Linked DNA regions of Homo sapiens: regions 1 and 3 are each linked to region 2. Evidence: fine-mapped expression QTL. A gene starts in region 2. Each other region holds a variant in brackets. All regions are shown on one strand. Distances are between the middles of the regions.

Region 1 (4,245 bases), 23 kb before region 2:
GGCTCCATAAGGAGAATTTCCTGATTCTGAGGGGAAATTGAACAGAGTTTTCTCAAGGAGTCCAGGTGATTCTTTATAAATATAAGGTTTGCCTTGAAAGTGCCACTGTAATGCCTCATGTATTTTATGACCTCAGTTATCTGGAAGACAGCCAAGGATCCAGCACGAGCAAAAATCACCTGCTGACAACATAGGAGAGCTGAAAATAATAAAGTTATGCAAAGGTATCAAGGTTAGCTATTCCGTTGGGGGCTGCAGTCTCTGCATACTTTTACAACGCCTTTTCTCATTGCCATTCCCTGTCTGCAGCTTTAGTAGAGAGAAGCTGGAGCAGAGAAAGGAGGTAGCTTTTCTTTTTTTTTTTTTTGAGACAGAAAAAAAAAGGGTCTGACTTTGTTGCCCAGGCTGGGAGTGCAGTGGCACGATCTTGCCTCACTGCAACCTCTGCCTCCCAGGTTCAAGTGATTCTTCTGCCTCAGCCTACCGAGTAGCTTGGATTACAGACACATGTCACCACACCCAGTTAATTTTTGTATTTTTAGTAGAGCCGGCATTTCACCATGTTGGCCAGAGTGGCCCTGAACTGGGCTCAAGCGATCTGCCCACCTCAGCTTCCCAAAGTGCTGGAGTTACAGGTGTGAGTTACCTTGCCTGACTGGAGGCAGTTTTTCAAGAGAATTGCAAGTGACTGTAAAGAAGTGAATCTGGCCAGGTACAGTAGCTCATGTCTATAATCCCCACATTTTGGAAGGCCAAAGCAGAAGAATTGCTTGAGCTCAGGAGTTCAAGACTGGCCTGGGAAACAGTGAGACCCTTCCTCTACAAAAAATAAAAGATAAAAAATTAGCCAGGTACAGTGGCTTATGCCTGTAATCCTAGCACTTTGGGAGGTCATGGTGGGAGGACTGCTTGAGCTCAGTAGTTCAAGACCAGGTGGGCAACGTAACATAAAAAAAAATAACAATAAAAAAAATAAAACGTGGGCATGGTGGCGCATGCCTGTGGTCCCAGCTACTAAGTCTAAGGTAGGAGGATCATGAGCCCAAAATGTCGGGGCTTCAGTGAGCCATGATAGAGCCATTGTGCTCCAGCTTGAGCAACAGAGCACGACACTGTTTTAAAAAAAAATTAGCCAGGCACAGTGGCTCATGAGGCTGAGTCAGGAGGATTGCTTGAGTCCTGGAGATTGAGGCTGCAGTAAGCTATAATTGTGCCTTTGTACTTAGCCTGGGCAACAGAGTAAGACTCTCTTCTAGAAAAATAATAATTATAATTTTTTTTTCAAGAAGGCTGGATGCAATGGCTCATGCCTGTAATCCCAGCACTTTGGGTGGCCTAGGTGGGTGGATCATTTGAGGTCAGGAATTCGAGACCAGCCTGGCCAACACTGTGAAACTGTCTCTGCTAAAAATACAAAAATTAGCTGGGCGTGGTGGCATGCACCTGTAATCCCTGCTACTTGGGAGGCTGAGGCAGGAGAATCACTTGAATCCAGGAGATGGAGGCTGCAGTGAGCCGAGAATGTGCCATTGCACTCCAGCCTGGGCAACAGAGTGAGATTCCATCTCAAAATAAATAAACAAATAAATATAAAATAAAATAAAGAAAGAAGAAGAGAATCTGTCCTGCCTGGTGAGGTGGACATCCTCTTTGCACTCTTCCATGTCCGGTTCCTTCGTTTTTGTCTCCTTTCTGACTTCTCTTTATTCACTGGATTTTTAAATGTTGGTGATGCCCAGGGTTCTGTCCTTCCAACTTCTCTTCATATTGTACGTTCTCCCTTGACTGATCCCATCCGCAAACATGGCTTCAGCTACATTGGCTTGAGGACATCTACATCTCTAGCCTGG[C/T]GGCTCCACTGAATTTAGATTCATCTATCCATCACAAATTTCCAACCGGATGCACCCAACCGTAGTCATCATCTTTTTCCAAAACCTGAGTTTCTGTTTGAATAAAAACACCAACCAGCCAGTCACCCAAGCCAGAAACCTGGGAACCGCTCCCAGAATCCCCGCTTTTCTCTTCTCTTTTCTTTTCCTGCACTCTACTTCCTTTTCCTGTCCTGTCAATAGTATCTCCTGTACGTTGCTAATTCAGTCCCTCTTCTCCACCCTCACTGTGCTTTAGTTAATTCCTTTTTATCAAAACTTACCCAGACCACTACAGGAGACTGTGTTTCTCTCCCTATCTCCAGTCTTAGTCTTCTGCAATTTTTTTTCTCTAAGGAATGCTTAAACAAACAAACGAGATTACATTTGGTCATACTTTTCTTCTACCTAAAAGTGACTAATGCTCAAGGTAAATTTCACAAGATAAATTTCAAACATCCAGGCTTGACATGGCTGACAAGTTTATTCATGTTCTTCATCACATGTTCTCGGGCCACTTTCCTACACACAACTTGAGCTGTAGTCATCCTGGCCGACTCGTAATTCTAAAAATATGCCATTGCCCATCTTGCCTATGTGCTTCTACACAAATTGTTCTCTCTACTTGGAATGTCTACCCACTCCCTTGTCCTCTACCTCTCTGCCCAACTTTTATGCATCCTCAGGGACTTAGCTCAAACATCATTTCTTAGAGGTATGTTCTGACAACTGAGCTGATCTGGAAGCTTGTTCTTTGTAACTCTCCCAATTATTAGCCTGTGCAGAACTCTACTCCTTATCACATGGATTTTCTTGTATGGTGCCTTCATTAGGCTAATTATTATAGATGAGAACTGCATCAAGCACATGTCTGATACATAGGAGAGAATGAATGACATGTTGAATCAATGCTTCCTGCTTAGAAAATTATTCCATCTCGGCCGGGCGCGGTGGCTCATGCCTGTAATCCTAGCACTTTGGGAGGCTGAGGTGTGTGGATCACCTGAGGTCGGGAGTTCGAGACCAGCCTGGCCAATATGGAGAAACCCCCTCTCTACTAAAAATACAAAAAATTAGCCAGGCTTGGTGGCGCATGCCTGTAATCCCAGCTACTTGAGAGGCTGAGGCAGGAGAATTGCTTGAACCCGGGAGGCGGAGGTTGTGGTGAGCCAAGATCGTGCCATTGCACTCCAACCTGGGCAACAAGAGCGAAACTCCATCTCAAAATAAAACAAAACAAAATAAAATAAAATAATTCCATCTCAGTCCAAATCACAAGGAGTTGATAGACAACCCCTCCCAGCAACAACAGTAATGTCCTAAGGGCTCCTTAAGATGCCAGGGTTGAAGAGAAAAGACAAATAGATTGAGACTGAAAGTCAGAGCTTGTTAGACAGACATTGGAGACATCAAAAGGGCATTAATGACAATGAGCCTGGATTATTCAGTGCGACCACTCATCCCGGAAGCTGGTGGACATCCCTTGCTTTTGCCTCCCAGTGATACTTCGCCTTTCTTTTAGTAATGGTAGCTTAGTATGTCTTAGAGATACCAACCCAATCCCTGTGGTTCAGGTGGGGCTGATTCCAGGCTTTCACTCCATTGATAAGTACAGGTCCTAGGTCTGTCAAATCATAACATTCCATTCCCTTTGCCTCAGCAGTTGGTTCAGTGATAGGCACATAACACAAGCCAGACCAATGATACTAAACACCAAGACATTCTCTGGAGCTATCTAGAAAGAGTTTCTTTTTCCAGTGGGGTTTTTGGTGGAAATATAAGGTGGAATTATAAGCCTGCGGTGACTAGTTACCATTTTTGCCTACATCTGGAAGAAGAGTTGAGAATGAGGCCTATGTAAAAGAAAGAGGTCCTGAGAGGCAGGAAAATACATTGCTGCTGGTAATGTTTTGAGTATCTAATCCAACTTTGCATAACACCAAGCCTGTTTGTTTTGATTTTCTAGTTACATGATAAAATAAACCCCTCCACCCCCCCTTTTTTTTTTTGAAGCAGAGTCTTGCTCTGTCACTCAGGCTGGAGTGCAATGGTGCGCTCTCAGCTCACTGCAACCTCTGTCTCCCAGGTTCAAGCAATTCTCCTCGCTCAGCCTCCCAAGTAGCTGGGATTACAGGTGCCCACCATCACGCACAGCTAATTTTTTGTATTTTTAGTAGAGACAGGGTTTGCCATGTTGGCCAGGCTGCTCTCGAACTCCTGACCTCAGGTGATCCACCCACCTTGGCCTCCTAACGTGTTGGGATTACAGGGATGAGCCACCGCTCCCGGACAAATTCCCCTTTTTGAATACGGAAATTCAATTTGGATCTCTGTTGCTTGCAACCTAAAGAGTGTTTATTAATATAGAAATCAGAAT
Region 2 (4,245 bases):
CTTGATCAGTTAGCAGCCATCAACCCTGAGGTGAGACCCTCCTCCAGCAAAAAAGATTACAACTTGCTGAAGACTCAGGTGATTGCCAGCATTTTTTTTGCAATAAAGTATTTTTAAATTAAGATATGTACATTGTTTTGTTAAATATAATGCTATTGCACGCTTTATAGTATGAACATAACTTTTTTTTTTTTTTTGAGATGCAGTTCACTCTTGTTGCCCAGGCTGGAGTGCAATGGCACGATCTCGGCTCACTGCAACCTTCGCCTCCCAGGTTCAAGCGATCTCCTGTCTCAGCCTCCCGAGTAGTTGGGATTACAGGCGCATGCCACCACGCCTGGCTAATTTTTGTATTTTTAGTAGAGACAGGGTTTCATCATATTGGTCAGGCTGGTCTCGAACTCCTGACCTCAGGTGATCCGCCTGCCTTGGCTTCCTAAAGTGCTGGGATTACAGGCGTGAGCCACCGCTCCCGGCGAACATAACTTTTATATTTACTGGGAAACCAAACAATTCATGTGACTCACTTAATTTTGATATTCCCTTTAAGTGTCAGTGGTCTGGAACCAAACCCACAATGTCTCTGAAGTATCTCTATGTATTTCTACTTAGCTTGTTAAACAGCAAACAAGATGAGAATTTAGAATTTTAATTCCCAGGACCATTTTCTTTTAAATATAGGTCCATATCCATAATATATATTCCATAATATAAAGATAATGAAGAAAGATATTGTTGGAATTCTTCTAGTCTGTTTTAGGCTTATGGATAGATAAAAAGGTGCAATATTAGTTTTCTTCTCTCGGAAAAAAACCAGTATTTTCCAGAGGATTTCATGGTTCTAGAAGTACTACTTCTAAAGCCTGCTTCTCTCTGCAGAGCTGCGAATGTCTTTTCAGATAAGAAATTCTGCATTCCATTTATCTTCAGGATGTATCCTTTGATAAGATTTCAACAGATTAATGAGCAACTGAACTGCCATATTTTGAAGTGGGAGAACAGTTTGCCTGAGTCAGGTATCCATCCCTTTAGGTTCTCGATTGGCCCTTGGCCCACGGTGAGTGAGCTCTCTTTGCTTGGTGCATCATCGCTCCACCTAGTTCAAGTTCTGGCGGCTTCCTGATTTTGATTCTCTTGGGAAATGAGGCCTGCTTTAGCCTGAGGCTGGCTCAGGAAGGCAACCTTTCACCTACTTAAGGAAAAGTTCACAGGCAAACTAAACAATATGTTGGGTTAAAAAAAGAGACCAATCCTACTAGTACTGGGTGAGTGAAAATCTTCTCTCTTACAGTACATGTAGTTCTACTACCTGCACTGGATGCTTTCTTTCTTATCCTTGTTTAGTGTCTAAAACGAGAAACAATGGCAAACTCCTTAAAATACAGAACCACTGTGGATTCCTAAGAACGTTCAAAAACAATAATTTGGAGTAAACTTTATTTTTTGAAAAGAAATAGCAAATTTGCATGGTGAGTGCATTTAGAGGAAAACGGGTTATATGCTAGGTCAAGTGAGGCCAAAACAAGAGAAATGATAATGGATAAGCTTTGAGTTTTTGAGGCTCTTCTTGCCCCAGGCAGTTCCAAAAGCCATTTTATTTGGCAGGATTTGACAGCAATTTCTGCAAGAACGGGATAACTAATCCAGTTAAAAACGAAAAAGAATATGCATACTATTTCATAATTTATATTGAAATTTATACATTACAGCAATAATTGTGCGACTGTAATTTTTTTTTTTTTTTTTTTGGTGGAGGGGTGTTTTTTCCTGGAGGGACGGAGCTCCTGCAGACCCTATTGGGCTAGCCGCTCCTCCCACGTCGCTGCCGCAGATCCCCGCTCCCCTCCCCCACCCGCGGTCCGTCCCTCCTGGTCGACCCCGTTCCCGCCCCCGCCCCGCGCAGACTGCAGCCAGGTCCGGTCCGCGGCGGCTCCGCGGAATGACCCGTAGTAACCTCGCCCCGCCCCGGGCCGCCAGCGCCGCGCTCCCCGGCCCGAATTCGATAGGCCCAGCCCCGCACGCGCCACCGCTCGCGGGCCAATGGGTGGCAGCCTCTCTGCATAGGCAACGAGTGCCGGCCGGGGGTGAGCGTCCCAGGCGGTTCCGCTCAACAGACGCTGCTGTGGCTGCGCCGGGCTGCGACACTGCAGTTGTCTACGCGGCCGGGGCCGGGACGAGGAGGCGTTGGACGGGGTCGCATACGTTCGTCCCCTCGCATTGCGGCCCCGACAGCTGCGCCAGGATCCCCGGGCGGCGGCGCGGGGCGTGAACGCTCTGGGGCTCAGCCAGGCCTGCGCGGGCCCGAGGCCGGAGGAACCCGGACTCCGGCGTAGCGGTGAGTGCGGCGCCGGTTGTGGGAGCGGCGGGAGCCGGTTGGCGGCGCGGCCTCCGCGTGCGGTTCGGCTGGGCCCGAGGGGCTCCCCAGCCTCGGGGCCTGGGACCCTGTCGTCGGCGCCGCACCTGACCGCTGGGTGTGCGCGCGGGCGGCCCGCGGCACCAGGAGCAGCGGCGAGCAGGGTGGGAGGCGGCCCGCTGGGGTCCGGGAAGCGGCTGACGTGGGGCCTCGGCCCTGAGCCCACGCGAGCCGGGAGCTGCAGCGCGAACGGCGTGGGGCGGCGCTGACCAGGCAGGGAGGATGCACTGCGTGCCTCCCGGCGCTGTGGGGCGGGGTGGGGAGGCCACCCCCTTGAATTAAGAGGGCTCTGCCGCGGCCCCAGCAGTGCGGTGTCCGTGGAAGGAGACTCAGCCCTGCGATTTCGGAAAACCCTTGTTTGGCGGGGCGGGAGGGGCTGTTGCTGCGTGGGGTGAGAAGAAACTAGGTGCGTGAGGTGGGTCGACCTTGGTGATTGGTTCTGGGCACTATCGTGGTGGTGGGACTGGGATTAAGACTGTCGTTTGGGGTTTGAGAGTTGCAGCTTTGCTTTTCCCCAAGTGCGTTTTAATCATATACTGTTGATAGGTTGGGTAACTCGGGGACTGCTTACTACCAGCAGTCCTGTGGGGTAGGTGTTATCAGGCTCGTTTCACAGATGAGGAGCCCGAGGCACAGGTTTTCAAATGGTTTTCGCAGGAAGTCTGATACTAGAAAGTGTGCTCTAAGCTGCTGTATAAAAGATCCCTCGAAAATGAAAAGGCTGGAGGAATGTCTTTAAAATTATATGGAAGCTAGAAAGGCAGTAGGCTTTGTGAACGAAATTATAGCTGAAAAGAATGACAAATAGCTGACATTTATTGAGCTTTTATTACATGCCACGCACTGTTTGGAGAGCTTTATGTACAGTGTCTTCACACTGTTAACAGTCCTCTGGGGTGGGGGTTATTCCCATTTTACAGCGGGAGAAACTGCAGATTGGACGACTTAGCTTGCCTCAGATCTCAGCTAGTAAGAAGCTGGGATTCAGACAGGCCTGTGTAAATCCAGAGCTCTGAAATCTAAGCACTATATTTTGCTGCCTCTCCTTGGTGGCTGGCTGAATAGTTTCCACAGTGGATTTTAGTCTGGGTGGCCAGGAGAGTTGTAGTTTGATGATACCTTCTTTCATGTTTATCAACCTATTTTGTTTCCCCAAATTAGTTCTGAGAGTTAAGGGTGCTGATGAGTTGCTCCTGAAAGTGTATTAGAAGGGTATTATAGGGGACAGGTGGTGTGACATGGGAATCTTTTGCACAGACTTGATTTTGTTTTCTGGCATTTTTCTGGGCAGTTCCTCACACTTGGGGATGAGTAAGCCTTCTAATTGTCGCATGCGTTTTCTCTCTAGACTTTTCCTGGTTTCTCTTTTGTATAAAAATATTGGTTTTGTAGGATGACATTGGGTGTGGGGCAGAGTGGTCCATTGGACCTAAGGGTCAAGGTGACAAGTCACCTCGTATCTTTGGATCTCAGTTACTGAATTTGTAAGGCTTTAGACTCAGTGACTTAAAGCTTAAATATTCTGAGGGTCTAAAATGTTCTCCTTGAAGGAAGAAAGGAAGAATGGGAGAAATGAAGAACGCACAAATTATAAGGGGAAAATCATCCTCTGTCTGGTTTGGGGTGAGAATCAGATCTTAAAGCCTCGAGGTCTGTTTCATTTGCTTTTGTGTTTCCCTGCTGTTTGGTTCCAGTTAAGTGACTGTTTCATTCCTCATTTGATTAATTGACTCACCTAGAGCCATTTAATTTTTGTGATATGTCAGGCACCTTATTAGGTGCTGGGAATACAGCTGTGAATAGAGGGAAAAATAGACAAGAAGCAAATGGTC
Region 3 (4,245 bases), 390 kb after region 2:
GATTTGAGTCTCGTAGTTGTTATGAGGTCCATGTTATTCCTATAGATCCAAAAGAGGATGTTCAGTATTGAAAAACATTTTGAGCAAGTTAAATGTTCATCATGAACTTTCTTAAGAAATGGTGATTCAGGTTGATTCATTAAATATGCACCTTTTTGAGCTCATTACTGTTTAAAGGATTCAATATCAAATAAAAAAGAAAACCAAACAATAAAATCGTTGTTAGATTATACCATAATGCAAACTACCCTAGAAGAGCAATCAGACTATTCTAGACATTCTATGGCAGGACTGCTCAGCCTCTATTTCCCACACTTTGGTGTTCAGTTAAGCTATAATTTCCCATGTTGTCCCCTGATCCCACCAACTGACAGCCTAGGAGTTACCAGCATTCCACAGGCTGGCTCACCCAATAGCTGGCAGAGACAGCAACATGCAATACTTCTCCCACCACCACCCTTCTCCAGTTTATATTGTCTGAGCCAGCCTTATTGCACCAGCGATCACCACTGAGTGAGAAGTGTTAGTTTCTGGGTGGGGTAGGGAAAGGACAGATGGGTTTATCTTTGGTTGTCTTTTAGGTTTCACCACGTGTTCAAGTGAGCATCTTTTTTTACTGCACACATCTCTCATGTATGCTGCTAGACAAGACCCTGGTAGAAGTTACAAGTTCTTTTTCTTTCTTTCTTTCTTTTTTTTTTTTTTTTTTGAGAAAGAGTCTCGCTCTGTCACCCAGGCTGGAGTGCAATGGCGCAATCTTGGCTCACTGCAACCTCCGCCTCCTGGGTTCAAGCGATTCTCCCACCTCAGCCCCTCGAGTAGTTGGAATTACAGGCGTGTGCCACCATGCCCGGCTAATTTTTGTATTTTTAGTTAAGGGGTTTCACCATGTTGGCCAGGCTGGTCTCAAACTCCTGACCTCAAGCGATCAGCCCGCCTCAGTCTCTCAAAGTGCTAGGATGCCAGGGTGAGCCACCGCACCCAGCTGGAAGTTGCAAGTTCAAAGTGGAGTTCTACCAAACTCATTTAGCTTATTGCAATACAGCCAAAAACATCAGGGACAAATGCTTAAAGTGAGAAGACTTTGGGAATTCAGGAGGTAACCAGGGCTGTGGCGCGCAGCCAGGGTATGTGGGTGCACTACGCATAAGGAGCTTTATCCACGCAACACTCTTGGTCCTGTCTCACTCTTATTATCCCACGTTTCCACTTCTCCTAAATGCTCGTTCATTTTAAGAGAAGTGACTCGGTTACTTGGCTCCTTCTCTCCTTTCCTTAGCTTTTTATGGGCAATAAAACCCAGCTTCTTCCTAGCTTAATGATTTAGCTTTGCTTTAAGGGTTTAATGATAGTTATAACTCAGTCTTTATAGATTTTTTTTTTTTACTCTGAAAGAGAAGGCATTTTCAATCATGTGATTGAGAAATCATTCTTAAAAATAAAAATGCACTGGGATTTTAACATGTTGATTACAGGTACCTTTCTGTTTCTCAGAAAAGGTAAAATTACTAGTAGAAATGAAATTGGGAGAAGTATGGGACATGTAAGCTCTCCTATGACTGAACATCCCAGTTAGAGTTGGGTGAACCTCAGAGAAAGCTAGTTTCATGGCACTGTATTCAGTTAGTTACTCTTACGTTGTTTTGTAAATGTTTTATATATTTCAGTGTGTTGTGTTTCTCCAACTAGATTGTAAACTCATTGAGGGCTTTTTATCATTTTAGTATTACTCTATAAATTTTAGTATAGTTTCCATGTTTATTTAGTCACTGTATTTATTGACTGGTAGTTAACAAAATTTCTCTGACTTTTTACCTGTAAAAAGAACCAATTTCTCTTTTTCCCTCGTCATCTTTGAGTCCTAGTCAGTGA[AAAAGAAAGAAAG/A]AAAGAAAGAAAGAAAGAAAGAAAGAAAGAAAGAAAGAAAGAAAGAAAGAAAGAAAGAAAGAAAGAAAGAAAAAGAAAAAAGAAACCAGAAGCTTATCTCTTGAGCCTGAGGAATGTGCCAGGCAGGAAGCCATGCCTTTAGTAAGATACATGGATTGGCTAGGTTTATTCCCCACCGTAACTCAACTTCTTGTATTGAATTGCAAGTTGAAACAGTAAAGTGCACAATCTTGACTTTACAATGCAATGACTTTTTACAAATGTATACACTCATGTAACTACCAAGGTCAACTTAAATTATTTCCAGCACCCGAAGCCCCTTTCTTCCATCTTCCAGTTAATGATCCCCATAAAATCAACACCATTCTGACTTCTTTCACTATAGATTCATTTTGTTTGTTTGTGGACTTTGAAGAAAGAGAATCACAGTGTACCTAGCCCTTGGCATCTAGCTCTCTACTTTTTAGAGTCAAAATTTGAATTGAGTTGTAATATATAGCAAAGTGCACAAATAAGTATATATTATAGCTCTTTGAACTTTTACTAAATAAATCTATTCAGCCAACCAGCACCCATATCAATTAAGTAAAATATTTCCAATACTCCTGTATTCCTTATTCGTGTCCCTTCCAATCAGTTCTTCAATGTTAAAGATAACCATTTTTCTGACTTCTAAGACTATAGAATAATTCGTCTTTATATAAGTGAGATCATAGAATGTGTCCACTTCTGCGTTTGACTTCTTTCACTCAAAATTATAGCTGGTAGAGTTATCCATGTTAATGTGTACAGTTGTAGTTTGTTTTTCTTTCATTTCTGTTTAGTATTTCATTGAATAATTATACCACCATTTAAGAAGTCAATTATATATTGTTTGAACACGTAGACTTTTAGCAGTGTGGGGCCATTGTGAATAGTGTTGCTAAGAATATTATTGTTTGTGTCTTTTTGTGTGAACATGTATATGTATTTCTGTTGGATATGTACCTAGTAGTAGAACTGTGCATGTTCATGGTTGGCAGATAATACCAAACAGTTTTCTAACATGGCTATTAATTGAATGGATATTATCAAACAGTAATATCCATTAATTGAATGGATATTATCAAACAGTAATATCCATTAATTGAATGGATATTACCAAAGTTTTCTAACATGGTTATTAATTGAAGTTTACACCAGCATTTTACGAAAATTTGAGTTGTTCTACATCCTTATCAACACAGTGGTGTGTGATGCTATTCTGAATAATACTTGACTTTAGGTTTTCGTTTCTTTCTAAGATACAGAAATGTAGTTGTTCTTGTGTATTGACCCCATGTCTGATGATATTGCTAAATGCCTTATGACATTTAGCATACTAGTTTGTGGTAGATCCTTTTGGATGTTTTTATAATCACAACCAGATATTCTGTTAATAGTGATAATCTTATTTCTTACTTTTACATTATCCTATATATAATACTAAATATGTGACAATACTAAATATCTTTTATTTTAAAATATTTTCATTACTTTTTTCCAGTTTTACTGAGTTGTAATTAACAAATAAAATTTATATGTATTGACATATGTATATGCTGTGAAGCGATTAAAACAATAAAGATTAATATATACATTGCCTTAACTTGTTATCATTTTTCTTTTGTGGTGTGAACATTTAAGATCTTCTCTCTTAGCAATTTTTAAGTACACAACATATTACTGTTTACTATATTTGCCTTATTTCTGAATTCAAAGAAAAAATCTCTCAATATTTAGCATTAAGTATGATGCTTAGAGTAGCTGATTTGTAAATAATTCTTATCAGGTTAAGGAAGTTAATTTGTTACATATAACTGTAATTTGAAATTACTTTTCTTCTTTGGTTAGAAGTTTGGTCTGTATAGCATATCTTTTTCCATTTTTTTCCCCATTGCTCTTCGGTCCTTGTAGTTCTGTGTTTTGGTCTGGGGTCCATTTCTTCCTTCTTAAAAAAACTCTGTTTAATCTATCATTTAGTGCAACTCTGCTGATGGAAAATCCTTTCTGTTTCCGTTTATCTGAAAATTTACTTTTTAATCCTTTTTTAGTTTGGTAAAATATACATAACATAAAAGTCACCATTCTAACCATTTTTAAGTACACAGTTCAGTTGTTGTGTAACTATCACCACTATCCATCTCCAGAAATTTTTTATCATCTCAAACTGAAACTCTGTGCCAATTAAACAGTAACTCTCCATTCTCCCTCCCACAGTCCCTGATAACTGTTATTCTACTTTCTGCCTCTATAAATTTGACTATTCTTGGTGCCTCATATAAACAGAATCATACAATGTTTGTCTTTTGTCTGGCTTATTTTTCTTAGCATAATGTCCTC

Which allele goes with the higher level. Positions count from the first base shown, and alleles are read on the strand shown. Sizes are in standard deviations (SD) of each study's normalised expression. Not every link is listed here.
In carriers of allele AAAAGAAAGAAAG in region 3, the expression in monocytes of the gene that starts at base 2,113 in region 2 tends to be lower than with A alone (moderate effect, 0.61 SD a copy in Fairfax 2014).

The links. PIP is the estimated chance that this variant, and not a neighbour inherited with it, causes the effect.
Region 1: its variant is fine-mapped to the expression of ACSL3 in whole blood (TOPMed, PIP above 0.99).
Region 3: its variant is fine-mapped to the expression of ACSL3 in monocytes (Fairfax 2014, PIP 0.95).

Annotation. Positions count from the first base shown.
Region 1 is chr2:222,835,555-222,839,799 of GRCh38, forward strand. No RefSeq gene overlaps it. Among named protein-coding and RNA genes, the nearest start is that of ACSL3, 23 kb to the right of the region's middle. The variant C/T (reference allele first, on the strand shown) is at 1,851.
Region 2 is chr2:222,858,924-222,863,168 of GRCh38, forward strand. ACSL3 (acyl-CoA synthetase long chain family member 3) reads left to right here and starts at 2,113. Exons shown (of 17, transcript NM_004457.5): 1 at 2,113-2,335. RefSeq lists an enhancer at 1,828-2,122 and silencers at 1,839-2,168, 2,239-2,608.
Region 3 is chr2:223,250,734-223,254,978 of GRCh38, forward strand. No RefSeq gene overlaps it. Among named protein-coding and RNA genes, the nearest start is that of KCNE4, 200 kb to the left of the region's middle. The variant AAAAGAAAGAAAG/A (reference allele first, on the strand shown) is at 1,873.